Regions from separate parts of the Homo sapiens genome. Here regions 2, 3, 4, 5 and 6 are each linked to region 1. Evidence: fine-mapped expression QTL. A gene starts in region 1. Each other region holds a variant in brackets. All regions are shown on one strand. Distances are from middle to middle.

Region 1 (4,072 bases):
GGACAGGGCGGGGTTGGGTTGGGCTGGGGACTGTGCTGCAGACCTCTTGGGCGGAAGCCCCGCCACCTCTTCCAGGATGTGGCAGAGCCGGGCGTCCTCGCCATTCTGGATGGCCCACCGCAAGGCCTGGATCTCCAGTTCTCGCTGTCTCCACAGCAGCCGCAGTGTGCGAGGGTCCAGGGACTCAAGAGCCAACCTGCAGCGGCAGCAGACCCTGCTGCTTACTCAGGCCGGCCCCTGGCCACCTGGCCCAGGAGGCTCACCAGTCCTCCCTCTCCTCCTTACTGCGGGTCGGCAGAGCAGACCACCGGTGCGGGGTGGGGCGTGGTGTCTGGCAGGCACGTGGGAGTCTCGGGGGCTGCAGGTGCGCCTGCTGGAGGTCCCAGGTGACCACTGACCGACTCTTGCTCTGTGGGGGACAGGAGAGCCTCTTCCTCGGTTTCTTCAACCTCCTGGCCAGACTTGGGGGCCATTCTCAATGTTCTTCGGGAGCTGGGAGGGGTGGGGGGCCCGTCTGCCGTGTGCGCCTCGTGTGGCCACACAGGTTGGAGCAGCCCAGGCGTCACCACTTACTCACAGAGCGTTGCTCTCTGAAGGGACCCACATGTGGGTGTCCACACCCGTGTGTTTCTGACCAGGCTGGCGCAGCAGGTCACCACCCGACATGTCCCTGGCGTGTACCCCTGCCACCCAGGTGCTGGCCCTTTGCCTGTGATGTGGTGTCCCTCTTTCTCTCTCTTGTCCCCCCAGCTCAGGGCCCTACCCCCAGCACTCACCTGAGGCCCGACCTCCAAGCAGGCCTGGGAGGGAAGGGCTGTATACCGTTGCCATGGATACCAGCACCCAGAAGGGGTGGGGCTGTTTGTTACCAGGAGCCTCCAGGGAGACCCCAGACCAGGCCCCTAGGTGAGTTCTGGGCCAGCCCAGCCTGGAGGAGGTGTGAGAGGCTGAGCCACTGCTCAGCTTAGCGGGGGGACCACTTAGTGACCAACACCCTGAGGGAGGCCCCAGCATCCCCTACCTAGCCTGGCAGCAGCAGCGGGATAAATAGGGGGGCACTGCTGCCTGTGAGCCAGCCCAGCATAGCCATGGGTGTGTGGGGGAAGCAGACAGGTAACAGTGACAAGCTGGGGACTGTGCTGAACGCTAACTGGCAATAGTACACTCCTGCCCACAGCCTGTTTTTAAATTAATAATTAATTCTTTAGAGACAGGGTCTTGCTCCGCTGTCCAGGCTGGAATGCTTCGGTGTGATGACAGCGCACGTTAACCTCGAATTCCTGGGCTCAGGTGATCCTCCCACTTCCGCCTCCTGACTTGCTGAAACTACAGGCACCCGCCTCCACCGCCAGGCCCAGCCCACAGCTCCTTTGACCTCAGTGACAGGCACTCACCTACCTGACCCCCAAACTGAAGCCTCACTTTTCCCAGCCGTGTCCACACCCTCTGGGCTACCCCATTACCATGACAAGTATTCCCTCTGCTCCAGGAGAAAAGCCAGGTCCCAGACCTGACCCATTAAAACCCAATCATTCCAGCTTTCACCCTTCATCTCTGCAACTTTCGGCTATGTAAGGGCTCCCTGGGGGAGCACAGGAGACAGGCGGGCAGGAGGCCCACGCCCACAACTCTTTCTGAGCTGGGCAGAACAATCAATGGCCCACACAGCTGACCGCGAGGCTGCGGGGCCCTGGGCGGGACAGTAGGGTAGGGGGTGAAGGAGCGGCTTCCAGCCAGCTTCACTGTGTGCATGGCCTGGCACTGGGTCCAAAAGGGGCAGGAAGGTGTCGGAGAAGAGCCTCAGCTAGAGTCCGGGCCTTCTGAGCGGGCACCTCCCGCACCAGGACTCTGCGCCCGCCAGCTCCGCAGGGCTCCACCTCCCTCGCCGGGACTGGTGACCCTGCGACCCCGCGACCCCTGCGCGTCCAGACTACTGCAGCTGCGGTAGGCCCCAAAGGCTGGCCCGGGAAGCGAGGGGAGGGGCTGGCCCCGCTGCCCCTGGACGCAGGCGGGGGTTGCGGGATCTCAAGCCAGAGACCCTTCCTGGGCGGGAACCCGCCACACTAGAAGGCTGCTGAGGAAGTCGGCCCAGGAGCGGGGCCAGACACCTACCCCGACGCCTGCCCGCGGGCCGCAGCCACCGCATTTCCGCGTTTTTCGCGGTAGGCGGGAGGTGGGGGCGGGGACTGCGGCTCGGCGCCCCCCTCCGACCCGCCCACACCTGTAGTCTCGGGGGGGGCGGGGCGCGGCGACGAGCCAATGGGTCGGGGAGGGGCGTGACAGAGGCAGCCAATGGGCGCGGGGAGGGGGCGGAACGCCCGCGCTGAGCAGCCAATAGGGGTGCTAGGGGCGGGGCGTGCGGACCGCGGGCCAATGGGGGCGCGGGGCCCGGGTGCGCCGCGGCGCTGGGGGCGGCAGGTTGCGGCGGCGCCGGAGCGGGTCTCCAGGCTGGCGAGCGCCCAGGTGAGCCGCGCCGGGTCCCCGGTACTTGGGAGCGCGGGGCGCGCCTCGAGCCGGCCGGACGCCGACTCCAACTGGGGAGAGTTTTCCGCGATGCCCGGACGGAGAGCGGGGGCGGCGCCGCACCTGCGCCCGCCCTGCGGAACGGGGACGCCCTGGCTCCCGCCAGGCTGGGGTCGCGGCGCGGGCTTCGGTGCCCGCGGCGGGGACCGGGACTTTCGGGGCGAGCGCAGCGATTAGGCGGCAGCGGCGGGGCTCCCCGGGCTGGCGGGGGCTGCTCAGACCCGGAGTCTGCTCCATCTGCAGGGTCGAGGTCTGGGTTGCGACCCCGAGCGCCTCTGCGGCCTGAGCAGGTCGGGGTGGGGCGTTCCCATGCCGGCGGCCGCGGGGCCTGGCGTGCGGGCGCCTCCGCGCCGCCCGGGGAGGGGGCAGTGTCCTCCGAGCCAGGTGAGGCGAGTAGGAAATGCTGGATCTGGTTAATGATTCGCCTTGTTCCGGGAGTGCGAGCGTGGCAAGAGGAAGCTGGTGAAGTGGGGGAGGATGCGTGCTCCGGAGGGCCGCCACCCCAGGAATGTGTGGCTGGCGGGTGGGGCTGGCACAGGAGGGTGGGGCCCGTGCGGAGGGGCGGCAGCCCAGCCGTTTCTAGGGCAGGCCAAGAGGATGAGGAGAGGAGGACCAGCCTGCGATAGGAGTAGGCAGGTCCTGACCCGGTGCCTGCGCCCTCCCCACAGGACAGGCATGTTGTTGGGACTGGCGGCCATGGAGCTGAAGGTGTGGGTGGATGGCATCCAGCGTGTGGTCTGTGGGGTCTCAGAGCAGACCACCTGCCAGGAAGTGGTCATCGCACTAGCCCAAGCAATAGGTGAGTCCTCTCGGGGTCAGGCAGGCCGGGCAGGTAGAGCTGAAGTGGGACCTGGTGGTCCAGCTCCATGGTCTCCCCCAAGGAGAGTGGGGCTGGTTGCTGATCCTTTTTGTTCTTCCCAACTCTTCAAGCCAGGTGGACAGAGAGTCGGGGGGACATAGGCTGACCTTCTCCTCTTCTTCCCAGGCCAGACTGGCCGCTTTGTGCTTGTGCAGCGGCTTCGGGAGAAGGAGCGGCAGTTGCTGCCACAAGAGTGTCCAGTGGGCGCCCAGGCCACCTGCGGACAGTTTGCCAGCGATGTCCAGTTTGTCCTGAGGCGCACAGGGCCCAGCCTAGCTGGGAGGCCCTCCTCAGACAGCTGTCCACCCCCGGAACGCTGCCTAATTCGTGCCAGCCTCCCTGTAAAGCCACGGGCTGCGCTGGGCTGTGAGCCCCGCAAAACACTGACCCCCGAGCCAGCCCCCAGCCTCTCACGCCCTGGGCCTGCGGCCCCTGTGACACCCACACCAGGCTGCTGCACAGACCTGCGGGGCCTGGAGCTCAGGGTGCAGAGGAATGCTGAGGAGCTGGGCCATGAGGCCTTCTGGGAGCAAGAGCTGCGCCGGGAGCAGGCCCGGGAGCGAGAGGGACAGGCACGCCTGCAGGCACTAAGTGCGGCCACTGCTGAGCATGCCGCCCGGCTGCAGGCCCTGGACGCTCAGGCCCGTGCCCTGGAGGCTGAGCTGCAGCTGGCAGCGGAGGCCCCTGGGC
Region 2 (4,083 bases), 120 kb before region 1:
AGGGCCAACAGTCGGCTCTGGTTTCCCCAAGGGGTAACATGGTCCCACCCATGTTTCTCCTTGGGGGACCTCCTGGCAGGCTGGGATGGCAGCAGAGACCACAGCTTTGCCACTTTGGCAAAGACAAGCGAGTGAAGTGGTGGCCGAGGACCTGTGAGCTCAGATGGGGCAAATCCAAATGGAACACATTCAGATCTGTGTGCAAAATGGTGGTGGCTTAAACAAGCTGTGTATTTCTCCTATAAGTGAAATCTGGAGTTGGCCGGGCGCAGTGGCTCATGCCTGTAATCCCGGCGCTTTGGCAGGCCGAGGCGGGTGGATCACCTGAGGTCAGGAGTTCGAGACCAGCTTGCCCAACATGGTGAGACCCCGTCTCTACTAAAAATACAAAAATTAGCCAGGTATGGTGGTGCACGCCTGTAATCCCAGCTACTCGGGAGGCTGAGGCAGGAGAATCGCTTGAACCTGGGAGGCAGAGGTTGCAGTGAGCCAAGATCACACCACTGCACTCCAGCCTGGGTGACAGAGTAAGACTCTGTCTTTAAAACAAAGCAAAACAAAAATCTGGAGTTGGCTAGTCCTGGACTAGTATGGCCGAACTATAGTCATCAGAGACCCAGAATGCCTTCAGCTTGTTGCTCTGCCACCTTAAATACATGGTCCCAGCACCTGGTCCAAAATGACTGCTCAAGCTCCAGTCATCACATCCACGTTCCAGCCAGTGGGAAGAGGAAAGGGCGAAGGAGGGAACCTCACCCTTCACATGGTTAGTCACGTGACCACACTCTATGGCAAGGAAGCCTGGGGCATGTGAGCTCTTTTCCCATGGAAGAAAGCAGGGTAAGCGGGAGAGGGAACATCCGGCAGTCTCACCAGGGGGTCACAGCTGCCAAGTTAGATCTAGTTCAGAAACAGAATGTGCAAGGCTTGTTGAGTATGGGAGGAACTCACACGCAAGATCCACGTTCCCAGCCCCTGCACCGTCCGTGACGGGTGTCGCTCCCCAGTCCCCAGCTCAGCCCGCTCAGGGGTCTCTGTGCTCATGTTTTCACACTGTGTTAAAACAATCTTCGGCTGGGTGCGGTGGCTCATGCCTGTAATCCCAGAGCTTTGGGAGGCAGAGGTGGGTGGATCACGAGGTGAGGAGTTCAAGACCAGCCTGGCCAAGATGGTGAAACCCCATTTGTACTAAAAATACAAAAAATTAGCCAGGCGTGGTGACAGGCGCCTGTAATCCCAGCTACTCAGGAGGCTGAGGGAGGAGAATCATTTGAACCCGGAGGGTGGAGGTTGCAGTGAGCCAAGATCGTGCCACTGCACTCCAGCCTGGGTGACAGAGTGAAACTCCGTCTCAAAATAAATAAATCAATAAATAAATAATAAAACAATCTCCACGTTTTCAGTGTGTTAAAACAATCTGCTAGCAGGTCATGTGAGTTACTCAGGCGCCACTTCAAGTGTCCACACAGCTGCTGTGCTCTCTTTCAATGACTTTTTCAGCATTCCCAGTTGCGTTGCAGAAACACTGTTCCTCCTCCCCCCACACCTTCCGTGGGCGTCACCAGAGGAATCCTCAGTCACTTCCAGAGTCCTGGCTGTAAAGCCAGCATATCCAGCTTCAGGGGAGAGAGCTCAGCGAGGCGGCTGCATTGGCCGCTGGCCTCACCCAGCGTGGAAGTTCCCTTACGATCAGTGAAGGGTGGAGAGGGAGGGGGACCCCACCCAGTCCTATCTGGACAGAAAACCAGTACAGCCCTTTCAGAAAGCAATTCAGCTATAATACGTATTAAGAGCCTTAAAATTGTTTAGACTTTGGTTCATTAATCTAACTTTTTGTAAACTGTTCTAAAAAAATGCAAAATAATGAAAATATGTATATATGTCATTTGCAGCAAAAATTGTAAACCACCAATGTTCAACAATAGGAAAATATCAGCGAAAACATGGTATTCATATTTATATGCTGATTAAGCAGACATTAGAAGTTATACTTTCAAAGAGTTTTTGAGAACATAGGAAAATGCTTATGTTATACTGCTAAGTAAAAAAAACAGACTACAAACATATAAAAATTTTTCCTAGATTAAAAGAGATTTATTTATTCTTTTTATTTTTTGAGACGGAGTCTTGCTCTGTTGCTCAGGCTGGAGTGCAGTGGCAGGATCTCGGCTCACCACAACCTCCGCCTCCTGGGTTCGAATGATTCTCCTGCCTCAGCCTCCCAAGTAGCTGGGATTACAGGCATGCACCACCACGCCCGGCTAATTTTGTATTTTTTGTAGAGACGGGGTTTCACCATGTTGGTCAGGCTAGTCTTGAACTCC[C/T]GGCCTCAGGTGATCCGCCCGCCTCGGCCTCCCAAAGCGCTGGGATAACAGGCATGAGCCACTGCACTTGGCGGAGATTAATTTTTTTTTAATGTTCTTTTACTTTAAGTTCCAGGATACGTGTGCAAAACGTGCAGGTTTGTTACACAGGTAAACGTGTGCCATGGTGGTTTGATGCTCCTATCACAAACATGTATAAAATGTTTATGTAAACGTAGCTAAGGGGCATTAAAATATGGGAAGAGTAGACTGATATTTGATACTTACATTTGCTTAACAATGTGAACTAAGGATGGGGTATTATGCTTTTCTTCATTATGTTTGTTTTCAAATATTCTAACACAAACACATCACACTTTAATAAACTTATTAAATTTGCTTTATTTTTCCACATTCAAGTCTATTATTATAAACTTTATTTCCCCCAGACTCAGCTTGACTCTTGGCTTCCGGGTTTGAGTGCAGCTCCTGAAGAGGCAAGAGTTTGGCCTGGACGTCCTGGCAGGTGGCCCTGCCCTGCCTTGGCAGAGAACTTTGGTCGAGGTTCCCCGTGGGCCTCCTGCTCTTCCTCTGTGGACCCTGGACCCTGTTCCTCTGCCTTTCCTCCTCCCACTTCAGAAGACCCCGTCCACCAGACCGCCTCCCCCTGAGGCCCAACATGCAGCAGAGGCAGCTCCTCCGTCCCTGCAGCCTCCTTTTAACTGTGGGATATGGCAGCCACCCGTGGAGCGGTCCGGGTGACAAAGCCAGCGAGAGCTAGGGAGCGCCCAGGTGAAATCCCACAGGCAGGTGTGAGCACCAATTGTCATTACCTTTGCCCTGGGCCCCTCAGAGACCTGTCCTCCCCCCCCGCCCCCAACAGCCTCCTGGGCGCGGCCACAGACACAGACACAGTGTCTGGACGAGCAGACTCGTCCAGGCACTGCTCAGAGGCAGCCCCTCTGGGTCAGCTGGAGTCGGTGCCTCTGAGAACCTGCCCCTGTACTCTCTCTGGGCTGGTCTCAGGCACCCTGCTGGCTCCAGCCTCTCTTGGCTGACAGTGCTTGGCAGGCGACCCCCAGCCTGAAGCCCCTGCAGGGGAGACCCTCTCCCAGCTGGGCCTCTGCCCTTGAGGACCACCTGAAGCCATCCTTGCCTGCCACACCAGGGTGGCATTGGGGTGGGGACCCAAACCCCTCCCGTCCTCATTGCAGGGACAACTCTGTCTCCTTGCTGCCTCCCCAACACCTCCAGGCCTTAACCATCTTGACTTGGGGAGCAGTCCTGCTGTCCACGCTCCCTCCAACAAGCCAGAGAAAACTCCCGGGCACAGGTGTGCGTGTGGCACGGTGAGTTTTTCTGTAATCCACTCACCTTTATGGATTTACCGCACCAGGGGAAATATTACAACAGGCATTTGTTACTTTACAAATTCCTAGGCTTCCTCTCCCTTCCTTGCAAGGGCATTTTTAGAAAGCATTTCGCCAACATTCACTATTTACCACCATAAATGTGACTCTGGCCAGCTCTGTCCCTGGGTAAGGCCAGAATTGACCATTTTCTTAAAAGTTCCAGCGCCCTGAGGCTTCTGGCAGGCATCTCTGCAGCTGAGGAAGGCTTCTGTCCCGTGCACCCTTCCCCAGGCGGGGGACCCCCAGTTCTGCTGCTCTGGGGCCTCAAAGAACCAAGTCCTCCAAGCTGCTCCACTGCCTCCTCACCAGCCACGGTGCTCCCTGAGCCACAAACCTCCGGCCTCACCCCTGCCCCTCAGGCCCACGTC
Region 3 (4,083 bases), 96 kb after region 1:
CACCTCCAGAATCAGCTCTTTCCTGGCCTCAGTGCAGTTTGCCCCCTACATTCATTCACTGGAAGACCAGTATGGGCCGGGAGCAGCGGCTCATACCTGTAATCCCAGGACTTTGGGCAGCCGAGGCGGGTGGATCACCTGAGGTCAGGAGTTCAGCACAGGCAACGTTGCGAAACCCAGTCTCTACTAAAAATACAAAAATTAGCTGGGTGTGGTGGTGGCCACCTGTAATCCCAGCTACCTGGGAGGCTGAGGTGGGAGAATAGCTTGCACCCAGGAGGCGGAGGTTGCAGTGAACCGAGATTGCACTACTGCACTCCAGCCTGGGTGACAGAGCGAGACTCCCATCTCAAAAAAAAAGGGAAATCAGGGCCGGATGCAGTGGCTCATGCCTGTAATCCCAGCACTTTAGGAGGCTGAGGTGGGCGGATCACGAAGTTAGGAGATCGAGACCATCCTGGCTAACACGGTGAAACCCCGAGATTGTACCATTGCACTCCAGCCTGGGCGACAGAGCAAGACTGTCTCCAAAACAAACAAACAAACAAACAAACAAAAACAAAGGGAAATCAGCATGGAAATCTTTCTCCAAACTCCAAGGAGCTTCACTCCAGCCAGGCCAGCACAGAAAATCAAACTCAGGAGTCCACCGCTCCCAACACTCCTGAGCAGGGCTGTGGGCATCAGCCTGGGCGCACCGTGGCAGGCATGTGTCCCAAACTGCTGCGGCGGTGCCCCAGCCAACACCCCCACGGCCCCACCTGAGCTGGTTTCTGTGGTGGATTGAAAAGATGCCACCAGAGGTTTGTGTACTTTCTCCTGGAATTACATTATTGGAGCTTTTCTTTTTAATCAGCGCATAGGTCAACATGCTGTCAATGATTAATGTTTGCGGCATGACTAAGGTGCTTGACAGTTGTGAGCTCCGCCGTCAATGCTCTCTGAGACGGAGAAGACCACTGGGCCTAGGAGAGGCCTTGGCGCCGCGACCTGCACGCCCGCTATGCGCCCAGATCATCCGCAGCTGCGGGAGGGGCCGTGGCCAGTGGGTGAGTGGCAGCGTCTGTGAGCAGCACAGAGCAGCACAGGAAACGACTCCAGCGCGGCCCCACGGCCCCTGCACGCGTGCAGACCTGCTCCGAGGTTCTGTTCTGATGCTTGCCTCCCTCCTTCGCAAACGTGATCTTTAACATTTTTCCAGTTGTAAGACATTCAGAGCTCCGACATTCAGTCACTCACTTCAGAAAACAGGAGCATTAGGAGGAATTTTGGTGCTAATTTAGGTTGCCCCCTGCCTCTACTTTATTTATTTATTATTATTATTATTTTTTTGAGATGGAGTCTCACTCTGTCGCCCAGGCTGGAGTGTAGTGGCGCAATCTCGGCTCACTGCAACCTCCACCTCCTGGGTTTAAGTGATTCTTGTGCCTCAGCCTCCCCACAGCTGGGACTACAGGCACGGACCACCACGCCTGGCTAATTTTTTTGTATTTTTAGTACAGATGGGGTTTCACCATATTGGTCAGGCTGGTCTCGAGCTCCTGACCTCAAATGATCCACCTGAGTCGGCCCCCCAAAGTGCTGGGATTACAGGCATGAGCCACCGCGCCTGGCCTGTGCCTCTACTTTAAATGACAAACTTTTTTTTTTTTTTTGAGATGGAGTCTCGCTCTGTCGCCCAGCCTGGAGTGCAGTGGCACGATCTCAGCTCATTGCAACCACCACCTTCCAGATTCGAGCAATGCTTCCACCTTAGCCTCTCAAGTAGCTGGGATTATAGGCGCTTGCCACCATGCCTGGCTAATTTTTGTATTTTTAGTAGAGACGGGGTTTTGCCCTGTTGGCCAGGCTGGTCTCGGAAACTCCTGACCTCAGGTGATCCGCCTGCCTTGGCCTCCCAAAATGCTGGGATTACAGGCATGAGCCACCAAGCCCAGCCGACAAAATATTTCTTAAAAAGTCTGTAACCACAGAGAAGCTTCTCGAAGGAGAACACAGCTTCTG[C/T]AGGCTTTATTAACATTCTGGGTTGCTCTGTGGATGGCCGGGCCAGGCAGGACCCTGGTCCAGCCCCTCACAGACAGAGGTCAGGTGGGGTGGGAGGCTGGCGGGAGCGTGGTCACTGTCCCGGGGAGCGGCCCCCACGCTGAGAAGGGCACGGGTCTCCGTGTCCAGCAGTCCCTGTGCACCACACACCAGGACGTCCTGTACTTGCCCCCCAGCATAGTTCCTGGAGGACAGCACCCCTGAACTGAACGGGAAGCCTGTCCTGTTGCCTCGCAGGCGCCTCTTCAGCCTCAGCTGGGACTTTCAACCACTTGGGCCTTTCGCGGTATGCCCTTTGCAAAACTTTTTTTTTTTTTTAAACTGAAAAATAACGTTCTAGGAAGGTTAGAAGGAGCTTTGGGGTCTGAATTAGAGTCAGAGGCAGTAGCATGAACTCATGTTCTCTTCACAGATACAGAAGTGGCTGCGGAGATGTTCATACACACAGGTGACACCCTCATCCCTGCTCTGCAGCTGAACAGGTGACACCCTCGTCCCTGCTCTGCAGCTGAGGGCCTCCACGTGACAACATCCCAGCAGCACCGGACCCACCTGGCACCCACCTGGCACCCAGGCCTCACTCTCTAAGACTTCCCAATAAAAGGACCTGGGGCTCCCTGCCTGGCACCCAGGCCTCACTCTCTTAAGACTTGCCAATAAAAGGACCCGGGGCTCCTTGGAGAAGGGGCTGATTCCCGGGCCAGGGCAGGGAATGCAAGAGGAGGCTGGAGCACCCTGCAGTGCCAGGAAGTCAGGACGTACCCCAAAATGAAAAGTCTGTTGAAAGGGGTGCATCAGGGGACCCAGGAGCCGACGGCAGGAGCTCCCTAGGGCCAAGGACAGATGGTGTGCTTCACAAGAAAGTAGTGTTGCCTTCTAGCTCAGAGTTTAAAACACATATAAAATGAGCCCATCCGGATACAAACAAATGATCAAATAAATAAATACAAGTCCAAGCTATTCCAGATCCTCCCGTCTAGGAGAAGCCCCCCCACGGCCGTGGACTTGCTGCCTGACTAAATGTGCAAAGGGAGAAGCAGTCCTGTCACCAAGGAGACACCTACAGACACCTGACTCTGGTGAGGAAGGTCAGAGCTGTCTGTAATGTCACTTGGATGTCAGGGACGCCACAGTGGGGTGAGACAGGCGGCAGCACCCCTCCCTGAAACCTGTCGTCCACCCCCACGAGAAAGCACAAGACAAGCCTGGATCGGGGCACCTGGACAAACTGCCTGGCCAGGCCCTCTCAGAACTGCAGGGCATGGAAGACAAGGAAAGACTGAGAGACCGTCACAGGCCTGAGGGTGCTGGGCAAATGGTGCACGGGAGGCTGTCTCCCACAGGTGGCAGCGGGGACAAGGTCCTAGAGCAGAAACAGGACATTGATAGTGAAATTCAAAGTCCGGAGTTCACAGGGACACCCAGCGACGGTTTCTCAGCTACAACAGCCATGCCCTGTGGGCTTTGAAGTTACAGAGGGGAGGCTGCGGAGTGGCAGAAGGGACCCTCTGCGCTCACTTTGCAACTTTTCTGTAAACCTAAAATTATCCCGAAATACGTTTATTTTTTAAAATAACCATTCATTAGCCGGGCACGGTGGCTCACGCCTGTAATCCCAGCACTTTGGGAGGCTGAGGCAGGCGGATCACGAGGTCAGGAGATCGAGACCATCCTGGCTAACACGGTGAAACCCTGTCTCTACTAAAAATACAAAAAAATTAGCCAGGCGTGTTGGCGGGTGCCTGTACTCCCGGCTACTCGCGAGGCTAAGGCAGGAGAATGGCATGAACCCAGGAGGTGGAGCTTGCAGTGAGCCGAGAACGCGCCACTGCACTCCAGCCTGGGTGACAGAGCTAGACTCTGTCTCAAAAACAAAAACAAAAAACCATTCATTACTGCGGAAGAGGTGTGTGTGCGTTGCAGAAGGTTAGGACAAGACACCGCGTTTCCGCAGCCAAGGACATCGACAAGTCCCATTCTGCGCTTTCAGGAAACTGTCAGGAAATCACAGGACTGCGGATGGCACAAAGGGCAGAAGTG
Region 4 (4,069 bases), 240 kb after region 1:
CCTGGGCAGGCTCTGGGGGCTGTGGAGCCGAGGAGCCAGGCAGAGCGGGGTCCTTGGGGGCCAAGCCCATGCGTCGGATGCTGTCCTGGTACTTGCGGCGGCCGAGCTCCAAGACTGCGCGCACCTCTTCAGCCACGTCCTGCCGGTCACTCTGCTCCAGGGCCTGCACCAGGAGCCCCACAGCCCCTGGCTGCCCAGCCTGGCGCTCAGCCCAGGAGAAGAGCATGTGACGGATCTGCTCATCCAGATCATCCCTGCAGGCAGAGGATGGGCGACAGAGGGGTCCTGTCCACCTGCCCAGGACCCCCCACCACACTCTGCCTCGGAGTGTGGGGGAGTTCCCGGCTCCTGGGGCCAGGTGCGGCCAGACCTTTCCTTTCCAGCCTGGTGTTTGCCCTTCCCCCACCTCCCCTGGAAGAAACTTCTGTCAGAATCAGGTGGGCCCTCCAGGCAGCCAGGGCTCAGCCCTGGGGCTGGCAGCCAGCGGGCAGTGGGAGCCTCACCGGAACTCGTGCCGGATGCGCTGCACCTCCCGGTAGGACACCCCCAGGTGCAGGGCCACGGCTGGCCAGTCCAGACCCAGACGCCCAGCCACACTCAGCAGGTTGCTCTGCGTCAGAAAGCCGGTCTCGGCATCTCCCAGATTCAAGGGTGCCAAGGAGAGGCCAGCCCCCCGCCGTGGCCCCTCGGACCCTCGAAGTCTCTGTTGGAAGGAAAAAGTGCATTAAGCCCTGGGCTCCACCCCCAACTCCACCATGTCACCCTGGTCACCCCTGGGCCTCGGTCCTGCCCCGCCCCTCTGCTGTCCCTCAGTCCCACCGGCAGCTTGATGGGCAGAGTGGCCATCCACAGGGCGTCTGCGCCCTTCCTCTGCCGGGCAGCCTCAGCCTCCTCGGGCACCCGCACAGGCACCGCGCCACGGTAGAAGGACACCTGAAGGGGCATCGAATGGGGTTCGGAGTTCGGTCCTCTGCCCAAGCGGCCTGGGGGGCCTCTCCCCTCACCCACTCCCCTCGCCCACCTGGCCCCGCACAGCCTGAGCCTCCCGGTCCAGAGTGGTGGTCACGTATACCTCCTTCACATTCTTCAGGTGCGAGTAGAAGACAAAGCAGATTCTGCCCTCCACACAGTCAGGGCGGTCTAGGGGACAGGGGTGGGCTGAGCAAGGAGGGCTCGGGGAGGACGGTAAGGCTCCCCCTCCAGGGCAGGGAGCATCCACCAGCATCCCTACCAGCATCCACGTCGATGCCGCGCTCGAAGGCCGCAAAGAACTCTTCGCCCTCGAACATCTCCACCGTGTCAGAGGGCTCGGGGCCCCGGTACCGCTCCAGCAGCCGCCGAAGGGTGGCGTCCACCTGCGGGGAAGCCCGTGCAGCTCAGGACCCAAAGCTCTGCACCCCACCCCAGCCCTCTGGTCACCACCCTGCTGCCCTCCGGCCCGTGCCCCCACCTTGTTTCGGGGCAGGCACTGCAGCAGGACCTGCTCAGGGTCCCGGCGCCGCTGCAGAGCGATGAGGTTCACACGGTGCAGCCGCAGCCGCTCCCAGGCCTTCCGAGCCAGGCCTCCCACACAGTTCTTGGTGGTGTACCAGAGCCAGTACCTGGGAGAGCTGGGGGTGAGGAGGGCTGTACAGACTGGGGGAGGGGGGCTGAGAAAGCTGGGGGGCACTGACCAGGAGAAGTGTGTGACCTGGAAGCGTGCGTACAGGTGGGTGAGCTCCAGGACCACCTGAGCTGTGATGTCATCCCAGGTGGCTGCAGGAGGGGCCCAGTACAACAGGTGCAGGCGGGAGCGGTCCAGACTGAGGCCTGGGGATGGGAGGGGCAGCGAGCTGAGGCCT[C/T]CTGGCCGGAGACCCCCTCCACCCTATGGCCACAGGTCCAGGTATGCCCCATGGCTGCCTCTCACCTGTGATGCCAGAGGGCAGAGGCAGCTGCACGGTGACCGGTTGGAGGAAGCTGGGGGGACCGCTCTGTGACAGGCACAGCAGGGGGCTCACTGCAGCCTCTGGTTCTCCCAGGAGGGCCTGCAGCTCTCGGCCAGCCATGCGCACCACCTGGGGCAGACAGGCCCCCTGAGCACCTGCCTGTGGGCTGAGGCGCGGCCTGCCACCCTCAGTGCTGTCCTGGCCATACCTGCATGGAGACTCGACGAGGCTCCTCAGTGGCCCCAGGGGGGAAGATGACTTTGACCCCAGGATGACCCGAGGAGCACAGCAGTGTCCCCTCCGGTGGCACCAGGCAGGCATTGGACACAGGGCGGGAAACCACAAGGAACCAGGAGAAGTGGGGCACCTGGCAGTGAGCCCAGAGCCGCTGGGATGGGGGAGAGAGGAGGTCACAGGAGCCTGGGTCAGGGCACAGCCAGTCAGGGACACAGGGAGCAGGATCCAGGAGAGACGGGGCGGGGTGGAAGGTGCCAGGGACACAGGGAGCAGGATCCAGGAGGGACGGGGTGGGGTGGAAGTTGCCAGGGACACAGGGAAGCAGGATCCAGGAGGGACGGGGTGGGGTGGAAGGTGCCAGGGACATAGGGAAGCAGGATCCAGGAGGGACGGGGCAGGGTGGAAGGTGCCAGGGTGAGGCTCTGGGCAGAGGTGCACGGCTCAGGGCAGCAGCTCTCCACTCGCCACCGGCAGGCCTGGGTGGCCCTCACCTGGGGTGCCTCTTCCTCCAGGTAGGTCTCCAGGTCACCCCAGCTGTTGTCATTCCGGGTCCTGACCACCACTTCACGGCAGCGCCGGGCCTGCGGTGGGGTGAAGAGCAGCCACAGCCCCACATCCTGCCAGACAAGGATGGTGTGAGCACTGGAGCCATGCCCGGGCCCGCACACTGCCCCTGCCATGCCCTGGCCCACACACTGCCCCCGCCACGCCCTGTCCATGCCTGCTGGAAGGCCACCCCATGGGGCTGCAGCTCCAGCACATGGCTGAGCAGGGCGTCATGAGGACCCAGGGGGACGAGGCCTGGCTCCGGCAGCAGCAGCCGATAGCGGATGGTGATGGGGGTGGCGGTGGCTCCCGCTGGGAACTGCAGGCGGACGCCACAGGCCAGGGTCACTGAGCAGCCTTGAGGGGTCACAGGAAAGCTGAGTGAGGAAGGAGCGAGCAACAGGTTAGACCCAGAAGGGCCTACGTGTTGGAGCCTGGACCCAGGAACTCTGGAGAAGGTGTCGGAGGGGCCAGAGTGACAGGCAGACAGACTCCCCTCCAGCCCCCTCAACCCACCCCATACCTGTCCAAATCTGAGGTCAGGAACAGTCTGGGCATTTCTGGAATGAGGGCTGCCACTGTGCAGGGGACAGACATGTGCTCAGGACAGTGAGGAGACTCATGTCCTATCCCAGGTCTGCCCCTTCTAGCACCAAGCCTACCTGGTGAACTCGGGGCGTCTGGCGAGGCCTCACCCAGGGGGTTCCCCTGCAGGCGCACAAAGGGGGCGTCTAGCAGCTCAGGGGGCAGGTCCCGGAGCTGGTTGTCCCTCAGGTCGAGCCGGGTGAGGAGTGGAAGGCGGGCCAAGTCAGCTGGCACAGAGGCCAGGAGGTTGCTGTGCAGGACAAGGAGCCGCAAGGACCGAAGTCCCGCTGCGGGCAGTTGCTGGCTTAGGCTTGGCACCAGCCCAGCCCACGGCGCTGGGACACTCCTGCTGCCGCCTCCCAGAGCAGCTGTTTCAGACTCTCCTCCACAGCTGGGCTCAGAGAACTCTGACAAAGCCACTGAGGGAGTCTCAAAGGCCAGGGAGGTGGAGGGACAACCAAGAGGCAGCTGTGGACCAAGCCTGTGGGTGCAGAGGCCCCTGCAGAAGACAGGCAGGCTTCAGGGACCCTCCCGTGGGGCCAGTGTGTCGGGGCGCAGGGGCTACTCACCCAGAGAGGCTGGGAGGCTCTGCAGCCGGTTGGAGGCCAGGTTGAGCTCCAGGAGGCTGCCCAGGCCTCCAATCTCAGGAGGTAGCGTGTCCAGCAGATTCTGAGAGAGATCGAGGCGCTGCAGGGTGGATAGGGCCCCCAGTGCTGGGGGCAGCGTCTGCAGGCGGTTGTGTGTCACTGTGAGGAAGGTGAGGGCGGGGAGGGCCC
Region 5 (4,080 bases), 36 kb after region 1:
CAAGGCAGAGTCTTGGTCCGTCATCCAGGCTGGAGTGCAGTGGCGCCATCTTGGCTCACTGCAACCTCTGCAGCGAGTCACTGCAACCTCTGCAGCGAGTCACTGCAACCTCGGTTCAAGGTTCAAGTGACTGTCCTGCCTCAGCCTCCTCAGTAGCTGGGATTACAGGCACATGCCACCACACCTGGCTAATTTTTGTATTTTATGGAGAAACGGGGTTTCACCATGTTGGCCAGACTGGTGTGGAACTCCTGGGCTCAATTGATCCGCCCACCTCGGCCTCCCAAAGTGCTGAGATTAAAGGCGTGAGCCACTATGCCCAACCTAGTTGTAGTACCTTCTAACAAGGCTCTTGGGAATGTTTACAGCTTAATTAAAATTTTTTATTATAAATTACATTTACAAACTTGATATATTGATTTTCTTTCTACCTACACTACTTGAATTACTTGGCAGATAAAACAACGCAAGTACATAAAAACCCTGGTGGATCTAAAACATTAAAACTGATCAATATAACGATTCTCATACTTCTAAACATTTCCATACTGTTACAATTTGCAGTCTGCCAAATTTTCAGTTAAGTCTGACTTAAAAATCACACGTCTAAAATTACTCAGTTCCTCATGTCAAAATGGAATCACAGTAGGCCGAGGCGGGTGGATCACCTGAGCTCAGGAGTTCGAGACCAGCCTGGCCAACATGGCGAAACCCCGTCTCTACTAAAAATAAAAAAATTGGCCGGGCGTGGTGGTTCACACCTGTAACCCCCGATCCTTGGGAGGCTGAGGCACGCGAATACCTTGAACCTGGGAGGCGGAGGTTGCAGTGAGCCGAGATTGCGCCACTGCACTCCAGAGAGACTAAAAACAAAAAACAAAAAAACACTATCTGTAGATACACTGACATTACATGAAATAAGATACAGTTTCTGATTTTTTTCTTTTTTAAGTTACAATCTAATTTAAAAGTGTGTGTTCACCAGGGAGGCAGTGCAGGGGCTCACTGAGGCCTGTTAGGTGTGGCCCTCCCCTCCCTGGGCAGGTCAGATCTGAGCACCTTCAGCTGCAGGGCCACCAAGCTCCCTGTGCAGGTGGAGCCATGGGTGCCTGCACCGTAGCTGGGCAGGTCTCGGCAGCCCTCCTTGTCCCCGTGCTCGTATTTAAACTTGCAGCCAATCTCCTCTTCTCGGGGATGAGTGTGGGGGACACAGGCCTGGCCTGGCTGTGGATGGGCGCCTGCCAGGCGCAGAGGGGCCTTCTGCTCGGGCCTCAGGTGAGCCGCAGCCTCCTCCAAGGCTGCTGGAGCTCAGTGGTGGGAAAGTGGGTTGGACGTTTTCAGACTTTGGAATTCTTTGAAAGAAGGTACTGCTCATCCTTGCCTTTGTCCCCAGAGAACTTGTATAAGAACAGATGTTAGGGGACCTAGTTAGGCTCTTGGAGTGCCCCCACCCGCCGCCCCCCTCTGCTGGCCTGGCAGGGCGTGTCGTGTGCCCGGGGCAGTCGGCTTCTCTTCCTGCATGCCTGTCTCCTGTCTTTCTTGTATGGCCCTAGCAAGGGCCACACAGCAGACACCTTCTCATAGGTGCAGGACTCTTG[G/A]GAGAATGGGTTTACTCTTGTTTAACTCGTATCTTAGATCCTAGAACAGTTCAGCCCGTGGTAAGTGGTAGTTAAGTTCAGTTGAATTCAGGCTCAATTTTCAGGGAAATCATCAGCTTGACTCCCTTCCCTTGATTGTTTTTGCCTTACTCAGGGCTGTCTGGGGTCTTTGGGATGAAGTTTCAAGGATCTTTGCATAGACTCCCGAGCCTCGGCTGCTTGGAGGGGCACATATACCTCATACCAGTGGCAGCACTTCCCAAACTACCTTCCCAGAAGGCTCGATAGAAACAATTAAAACATAGTTTCCTTTCAGCAAAGAAACCTTCGCCTTCTTCAGTGGCTTGGTGTGAGGTGCAATGTTTGAAAACCCGGGAGTGAGGGTGGGGGAGACAAGCTCTCTGGGAAGGGGGCCCCACAGGCAGCACCTACCGCAGGAGCTCAGTGTGAGCCACTGTCGGCCTGTGGGTGTGTGTCGTGTGTCGCAGCCAGCTCAGTTGCTGTCAGGATACCACAGGCTGGGCAGCGTAAACCGCAGGTCTTCCTTTTCTTGGTTTTGGAAACTAGACATCTGAGATACCAGCAGGCCTGGTTCCTGGGGAGGCCCCCTTCCTGACTTACAGACGGCCGCCTCCCCGCTGTGACCTCACCTGGCCTTCCCTCATCTAAGGACACCAATCCTATAACCTTAAAGGTTCCATGTCTATCTGCTGTCACATTGGGGGTTAGGGCTTCTTATGAATTTTGGAGGGATGTGGGTCAGCCCATAACAGAATGCATCGCAGACTTGGGTGCCATCGGAGGCCTGCTTTGTGGTCCCCTCACTTGAGGAGGTTTGGGAAAGCTGTGAGCAGCACCCGGATGCTTTGGCCCTGCTCTCTCCTGTAGGTACCACATGGAATGCTTGGACCCCCCTCTCCAGGAGGTGCCGGTGGACGAGTGGTTCTGCCCGGAATGTGCTGCGCCTGGTGTTGTCCTTGCCGCTGGTAAGGACACTGCTCCCGTCCCAAGGCGCACATGGGCCTTCTCACTGTCCACTCTGCGGTCCCCGGGGTTAGGTTTGGCTGCTGTGTGGGGAGGACATCTAGGGCTGTCTCATGGGGGTTAGGGTTGGCTGCGGTGTCGGGAGGACATCTAGGGCTGTCTCGGGCTCGTCTTCTCGGGGATGTGTGTGGGGTCCATTGGCTGGGGGGTTCCGGTCCTCAGTGTTAGGAGCACCAGGCTCCATGAGCAGCCCTGGGTCCTGTGCACAGGTCAGCCCGAGCCAGGGCTGCTACTTGGCCGGCAGCCACAGGGGGAGCCGTTGGGGGAGGCGTGTGGCCTGTGAGTGTGGCACATCAGCCCTGGTGGTTCTTCCCAGATGCGGGTCCCGTGAGTGAGGAGGAGGTCTCCCTGCTCTTGGCTGATGTGGTGCCCACCACCAGCAGGCTTCGGCCTCGAGCAGGTAGGACCCGGGCGATAGCCAGGACACGGCAGAGTGAGAGAGTGAGAGCAACCGTGAACCGGAACCGGATCTCCACGGCCAGGAGGGTCCAGGTGGGTGGCCCAGCCCTGACGCCAGTCGTAGAACCCCAGCTGCCCAGAGTGATCTCGGCAGTCTGGGTGGGTGGGAGGGGCGTCGTCGGCACTGTGGGGTCCGCCCGGCCCCGGTGGCTCATGTTGTTCGGCCTGCTGAGGGGAGCAGATGAGTGCACCCCAGGGTGACCCCAGCGGCCCAAGGTGGGGCTGCCTCTGAGCACCTGGAGCCAGGTATTGAGGGGCAGGTGAAGCCTGGCCCTGGCGGGGTGGGGGCTCTAGGAAACCCCCCTTGTTCCCCAGGCCCCATGCCAGCACCGCTCCCTCTAGGCACCTGTGAGCACCTTCCTCTTGCACTGGACCTGGTGCTCGGTTTCAGGTGCTCCCTGCAGCCTCCGTCCTGACAGCAGCCTTTCCCTGGGCATTGGACAAGCAGGAGGGTCTGGGCTGTGGGCATGTGGTGTGTGCCCTTGGCAAGCCTAACGCTGAATTTGGAGTGGACTGAGAAGGCTGGGTGGGGAGGGGGCTGTCCCTGTCCAGTGCCCTGCCCAGTACCTGCGCCACCCCCGCCACAGTGACTGGTGCCCTCTCGTGTGCCCCTGGGATGCTGTCTGTCCCCCACCCGCCTTGCCCCCGTGGGAGTGCTTGGCAGCCTCTGGCAGGGGAGAGGAAGGCCGGGCCGTGGCTGCTGCAGTGGCGGGTGGGGAGGCTGTCCTGCTTCTCTGGCTGCCATTGTGGGCTGTGTTCTGGGCTCCATTTGGGGTCTGTGCTGGACCGGCTGAGGCCCCAAGGGCATCTGACGGCACCACCCCTTTGCCTGTAGCACACACCAGGGCGCCTCGGGTCTTCCCTGCTGGATGAAGCCATCGAGGCTGTGGCGACTGGCCTGAGCACTGCCGTGTATCAGCGCCCCCTGACGCCGCGCACTCCCGCCCGACGGAAGAGGAAGACAAGTAAGCCTGAAGGG
Region 6 (4,083 bases), 31 kb before region 1:
GGTTTCTCCATGTCGGTCAGGCTAGTCCCGAACTCCTGACCTCAGGTGATCCGCCCGCCTCGGCCTCCCAAGGGCTGGGATTACAGGCGTGAGCCACCGCACCCGGCCAATTTTTGTATTTTTAATAGAAACAGGGTTTCACCGTGTTGGCCAGGCTGGTCTTGAACTCCTGACCTCAGGTGATCCACCCGCCTCAGCCTCCCAAAGTGCTGGGATTACAGGCTTGAGCCACCGTGCCCGGCCTGAAACTCTACATTTTTATCCAGGCCTCCCTGGATGGATGTTGGGAGAGTTTACGCGTGGCCTTGTGGGATCGCTGTGGCGGACTCTCAGCTATCAGAGGGCTCCATCACTCCATCGTAAGGAGGCAGCTGGTGGCGAGTCCTGAGCAGGGATGTGATCCGACGGGCAGGCGGCGCCCGGGACAGAAGCTGACGTCACACAGGTGAGTCCCCCACCTCCCCACAGGCTTCCTCCACCCCCTCGGCAGCCCAGCAGGGCCTGTCAATCAGTGGGACCTGGTCAGCTGGCTGCTAGGGGACCTCAGGCAGGGGGGCTTGTCCGCAGGGCCTCCAGCAAGGGGGGACATTCATGACACCCAGCAGGGCTCAAGAAGGTGAGACAGAGGGACACTGAACCCAGCCCTTTACAGAAGACCTGAGTCCACCGAGGAAGGGGGCCAACCCCCTCCCCGCGTCTGCATCCCCAGGACCACCCCGGGTGGAGAGGGCCGAGTGTGGTGCCTCCGCGGGTGCTCTGACGATCGTCTCGAGCCACGGGGGTGACAGTGACAAGGACCTGTGTGCACGTTAGTGGGGCAGCCAGGCCTAGCTGGAGAAGAAACACACACACGCACACGTTCACCCACATACACGTGCACACACATGCTGCCAGTTCAGGGGGTGGAGGACGCTGACTCCAGGCCCAGCTGACCTGCGCGGGGCCCTATTGTGATGTGTGCAGCCACCCCATGACGTCACCGGTGCCAAGTGCCGGCTGTGTGCGGAGCAGTTGGAGACACAGTGGGTGTCCGAGGGGGGGCTCTGCGTCCGGAGGTGAGAGGTGGGTCTCAACACAGCTGCCCTCCCCCATGGTATGGTGACAGTCACTAACAGGTGGCCTGCGCTGGCCTCCACGTGGCTGCCAAGGGCCATCCCTGAGCACTCAGCGGGTGCCTGTTCCACACGGACTATGAAAATGACTGTCTCGTTCACCTCACGGCGACCCCGTGGGGTGGATACGAACTCACGCCATTTGACAGGCGAGACGTCCGAGGTCAGAGGGGAGGAGACGGACCCGACCTTCCTTGGCTGTGCTCTCCAGCCCTGTCCTGTGCTGGACCCAACCTAACCTCTGCAGCCTCCCTGCCCTGGACACAAATCTGGCTGAGACCCCAGACCCTGATGGGGCAGAGCCTGGCACTGGAGGAGCCACCAGGATGGGCCCCTGTGGGTGTGGGCAGAGGGTGATCCTCAGTTCAGGTTTTTGCCAGAAGATGGGTTCCTGCAGGAGGGGGTCTCAGCAGCTCAGACTTCAGATGCGCTCACTGCTGCTCACTGTGGGACAGCCAGACACGGAGCCCTCTGTTCTCCAGCAGTTGTGGACAATGAGGGATCCCTGGAGGGATGCCTGGTGGGCAGCAGGAGTCCCTCTTGTGGGTCAGGGTGCGGGGATGGGCTCTCCCTGCAGGGACTTCCCAGTCTTGTCCTCTGGGATTGGCAGTTTGCAGGGGTATCCTCGGCATCAGACCAGGGGGGCCACACAGGGACCCAGATCTATGGGGCCCAGCCCCGGGAAGACCAGATGGGCTCAGTGGAGAAGCTGACCACATCTGCTTTCCTTTCAGCCAAACCGGGGAGCGTCCCGGCACCCAGGCCTCTGCGGGTAACCCCAGGCATCAAGACCCTCCCTCAAGGGGAGGAGCTGGCTCTCCCCTGCCCATCAGCACAGCTCCAGAATCCCAAGGGGTCAGCTCCCACATGGGGGCCTGGTCCTGCCACACACTGGCCTAGCTGGGCTGTCCCCGAGGCCAAGGCCTAGCGGCATGAGGGGGCTTCCGTGGAGCCCAGGGCAG[T/C]GGGCTGCTCTCTGGAGTCCCTAGGACTCGGGGTGTGGCTGGCCTGTCCCCAGATCAGGACACACCCCAGGTTGTCCAGTGGTTCCCGTGCTGGAACTCCTGTTGAAGCCACCCAGGGACCTGGATGCTTCCCACAGTTCAGCATGGAGCAGGGGTGCTGGGCCCTGACCCCTCCACGTCTGTCCTGGACACCCCAGGACCACAGCACAGGCCCAGCCCTGCAACCCCAGCGGGGCCCTGATACCAGGCCCTGCCCAGCCCCGTAATGACCAAGAGGCAGGTCCAGAGATACCTCCTGCACAGGGTCACCTGCATCTGACGCCCCCAGCAGGCAGTGACCAGCACGGTGTGGAAGGAGCCAGGGTGGCACCCGGCAGCCCTAGAGGGCTCCTGGCCTCGGGAAGTCTATCGATGGGGAAGCTGGTCACTCGGAGGCTGCTGGGGAGAAGGGGGAGTGTGGCATTCCCTGGACAGAAGGGCAAGTGTGGCGTCCCCTGGAGAGAAGGGCGAGTGTGGCGTCCCCTGGAGAGAAGGGCGAGTGTGGCGTCCCCTGGAGAGAAGGGCGAGTGTGGCGTCCCCTGGACAGAAGGGGGAGTGTGGCGTCCCCTGGAGAGAAGGGGGAGTGTGGCGTCCCCTGGAGAGAAGGGGGAGTGTGGCGTCCCCTGGAGAGAAGGGCGAGTGTGGCGTCCCCTGGACAGAAGGGGGAGTGTGGCGTCCCCTGGAGAGAAGGGGGAGTGTGGCGTCCCCTGGAGAGAAGGGGGAGTGTGGCGTCCCCTGGAGAGAAGGGGGAGTGTGGCGTCCCCTGGAGAGAAGGGCGAGTGTGGCGTCCCCTGGAGAGAAGGGCGAGTGTGGCGTCCCCTGGACAGAAGGGGGAGTGTGGCGTCCCCTGGAGAGAAGGGCCAGTGTGGCGTCCCCTGGAGAGAAGGGGGAGTGTGGCGTCCCCTGGAGAGAAGGGGGAGTGTGGCGTCCCCTGGACAGAAGGGGGAGTGTGGCGTCCCCTGGAGAGAAGGGCCAGTGTGGCGTCCCCTGGAGAGAAGGGCGAGTGTGGCGTCCCCTGGACAGAAGGGGGAGTGTGGCGTCCCCTGGAGAGAAGGGCGAGTGTGGCGTCCCCTGGAGAGAAGGGCGAGTGTGGCGTCCCCTGGAGAGAAGGGGGAGTGTGGCGTCCCCTGGACAGAAGGGGGAGTGTGGCGTCCCCTGGAGAGAAGGGCGAGTGTGGTGTTCGCTGGAGAGAAGGGCGAGTGTGGTATTCCCTGGACAAAAGGGGGAGTGTCCCTGCAGCCCTGGCCAGCCAGCGGCATGCCCTGCTAGCTCTCCCCCAACCTCAGGGATAGGGAACCCTGACAGGGCACAAGTCCCCGTCCCAGAGGGGCCTGGCCCAGCCTCAACCCGGGCCCTGGGAGGGGAGGGGCACCAGGGGCGCTGTGGGCCCCCAGCAGAAGCCAGGATGACCACACAGGGGACTGAGCTGTCTGTGGCTGTGGCCAGACCTAGAACTTGGCCCAAGGCAGGGCAAGCCCCTTGGAGCAGAGTGGGTGGCAGAGCCTGTGTATACCCAGCAAGGCTGAGCCAGTGACACTACCAGGCTCCAAGAGCAACCAGCCATGAGGCAGGCGTGGGGCAAGGGTAGGGTGAGGGCAGGGGCGGGGGAGAGTGGGGCAGGAGCAGACGGACCAGCTGCCAACCTCGTCCACTCCAGGAGGCAGGGATGGCCAGGCTCCCACGCCCTACTGGCCGCTACCCGACCACCAATGAGGCAGAGGCCTGAGGCCAGTCGGTGCTGGAGCCCTACTTCCAAGGTCCACAGACCGCTTCAGGCCACAGAGCCGAAGAAAACTGGGCATGTGAAGGCCCAGGAGGCGGGGTCCCTATGTCTGCCATTCTTGGCAGGTGCATTTCACGCTGGGAGCAAGTCAGGAAAGGTGATGCCTCTCACCGCCAAGAAGGCTCCCAGCAGAGACCAGAGCCACCGGCACAGATCCCCAACCCCTGAAACCACCTCCCTCTGGAGG

Which allele goes with the higher level. Alleles are on the strand shown, and positions count from the first base shown. SD is a standard deviation of normalised expression in the study named. Not every link is listed here.
With allele C in place of T in region 3, the expression in lymphoblastoid cells of the gene that starts at base 2,168 in region 1 is lower (moderate effect, 0.69 SD a copy in TwinsUK).

What was found.
Region 2: its variant is fine-mapped to the expression of LMNTD2 in whole blood (TOPMed, PIP above 0.99).
Region 3: its variant is fine-mapped to the expression of LMNTD2 in lymphoblastoid cells (TwinsUK, PIP 0.91).
Region 4: its variant is fine-mapped to the expression of LMNTD2 in sigmoid colon (GTEx, PIP 0.97).
Region 5: its variant is fine-mapped to the expression of LMNTD2 in whole blood (TOPMed, PIP 0.95).
Region 6: its variant is fine-mapped to the expression of LMNTD2 in whole blood (TOPMed, PIP above 0.99).

What each region holds. Positions count from the first base shown.
Region 1 is chr11:558,571-562,642 of GRCh38, forward strand. It overlaps LMNTD2 (lamin tail domain containing 2), which reads right to left and starts at 2,168. Exons shown (of 14, transcript NM_173573.3): 1 at 2,113-2,168; 2 at 286-409; 3 at 44-196. The coding sequence starts at 2,146. RASSF7 (Ras association domain family member 7) reads left to right here and starts at 2,400. Exons shown (of 6, transcript NM_003475.4): 1 at 2,400-2,907; 2 at 3,192-3,322; 3 at 3,509-4,072. The coding sequence starts at 3,199. It overlaps LMNTD2-AS1 (LMNTD2 antisense RNA 1), which reads left to right and starts at 692. Exons shown (of 2, transcript NR_147607.1): 1 at 692-906; 2 at 1,209-1,536. RefSeq lists an enhancer at 3,203-3,778.
Region 2 is chr11:442,992-447,074 of GRCh38, forward strand. No RefSeq gene overlaps it. Among named protein-coding and RNA genes, the nearest start is that of ANO9, 3.0 kb to the left of the region's middle. RefSeq lists an enhancer at 1-418. The variant C/T (reference allele first, on the strand shown) is at 2,325.
Region 3 is chr11:654,519-658,601 of GRCh38, forward strand. All of the region lies in intron 10 of DEAF1 (DEAF1 transcription factor), which reads right to left. LOC124902603 (a long non-coding RNA gene) reads left to right here and starts at 505. Exons shown (of 2, transcript XR_007062543.1): 1 at 505-1,049; 2 at 2,456-4,083. The variant C/T (reference allele first, on the strand shown) is at 2,005.
Region 4 is chr11:799,312-803,380 of GRCh38, forward strand. PIDD1 (p53-induced death domain protein 1) reads right to left here. Exons shown (of 16, transcript NM_145886.4): 3 at 3,863-4,069; 4 at 3,371-3,580; 5 at 3,232-3,286; 6 at 2,884-3,085; 7 at 2,654-2,779; 8 at 2,134-2,313; 9 at 1,907-2,054; 10 at 1,674-1,809; 11 at 1,451-1,601; 12 at 1,232-1,355; 13 at 1,022-1,140; 14 at 820-933; 15 at 504-703; 16 at 1-254. Among named protein-coding and RNA genes, the nearest start is that of SLC25A22, 3.1 kb to the left of the region's middle. The variant C/T (reference allele first, on the strand shown) is at 1,842.
Region 5 is chr11:594,437-598,516 of GRCh38, forward strand. It overlaps PHRF1 (PHD and ring finger domains 1), which reads left to right. Exons shown (of 18, transcript NM_001286581.2): 7 at 2,487-2,584; 8 at 2,959-3,134; 9 at 3,937-4,066. Among named protein-coding and RNA genes, the nearest start is that of IRF7, 19 kb to the right of the region's middle. RefSeq lists an enhancer at 1,065-1,564. The variant G/A (reference allele first, on the strand shown) is at 1,599.
Region 6 is chr11:527,893-531,975 of GRCh38, forward strand. It overlaps a transcript of LRRC56 not described here. Among named protein-coding and RNA genes, the nearest start is that of HRAS, 5.6 kb to the right of the region's middle. RefSeq lists an enhancer at 613-1,150. The variant T/C (reference allele first, on the strand shown) is at 2,075.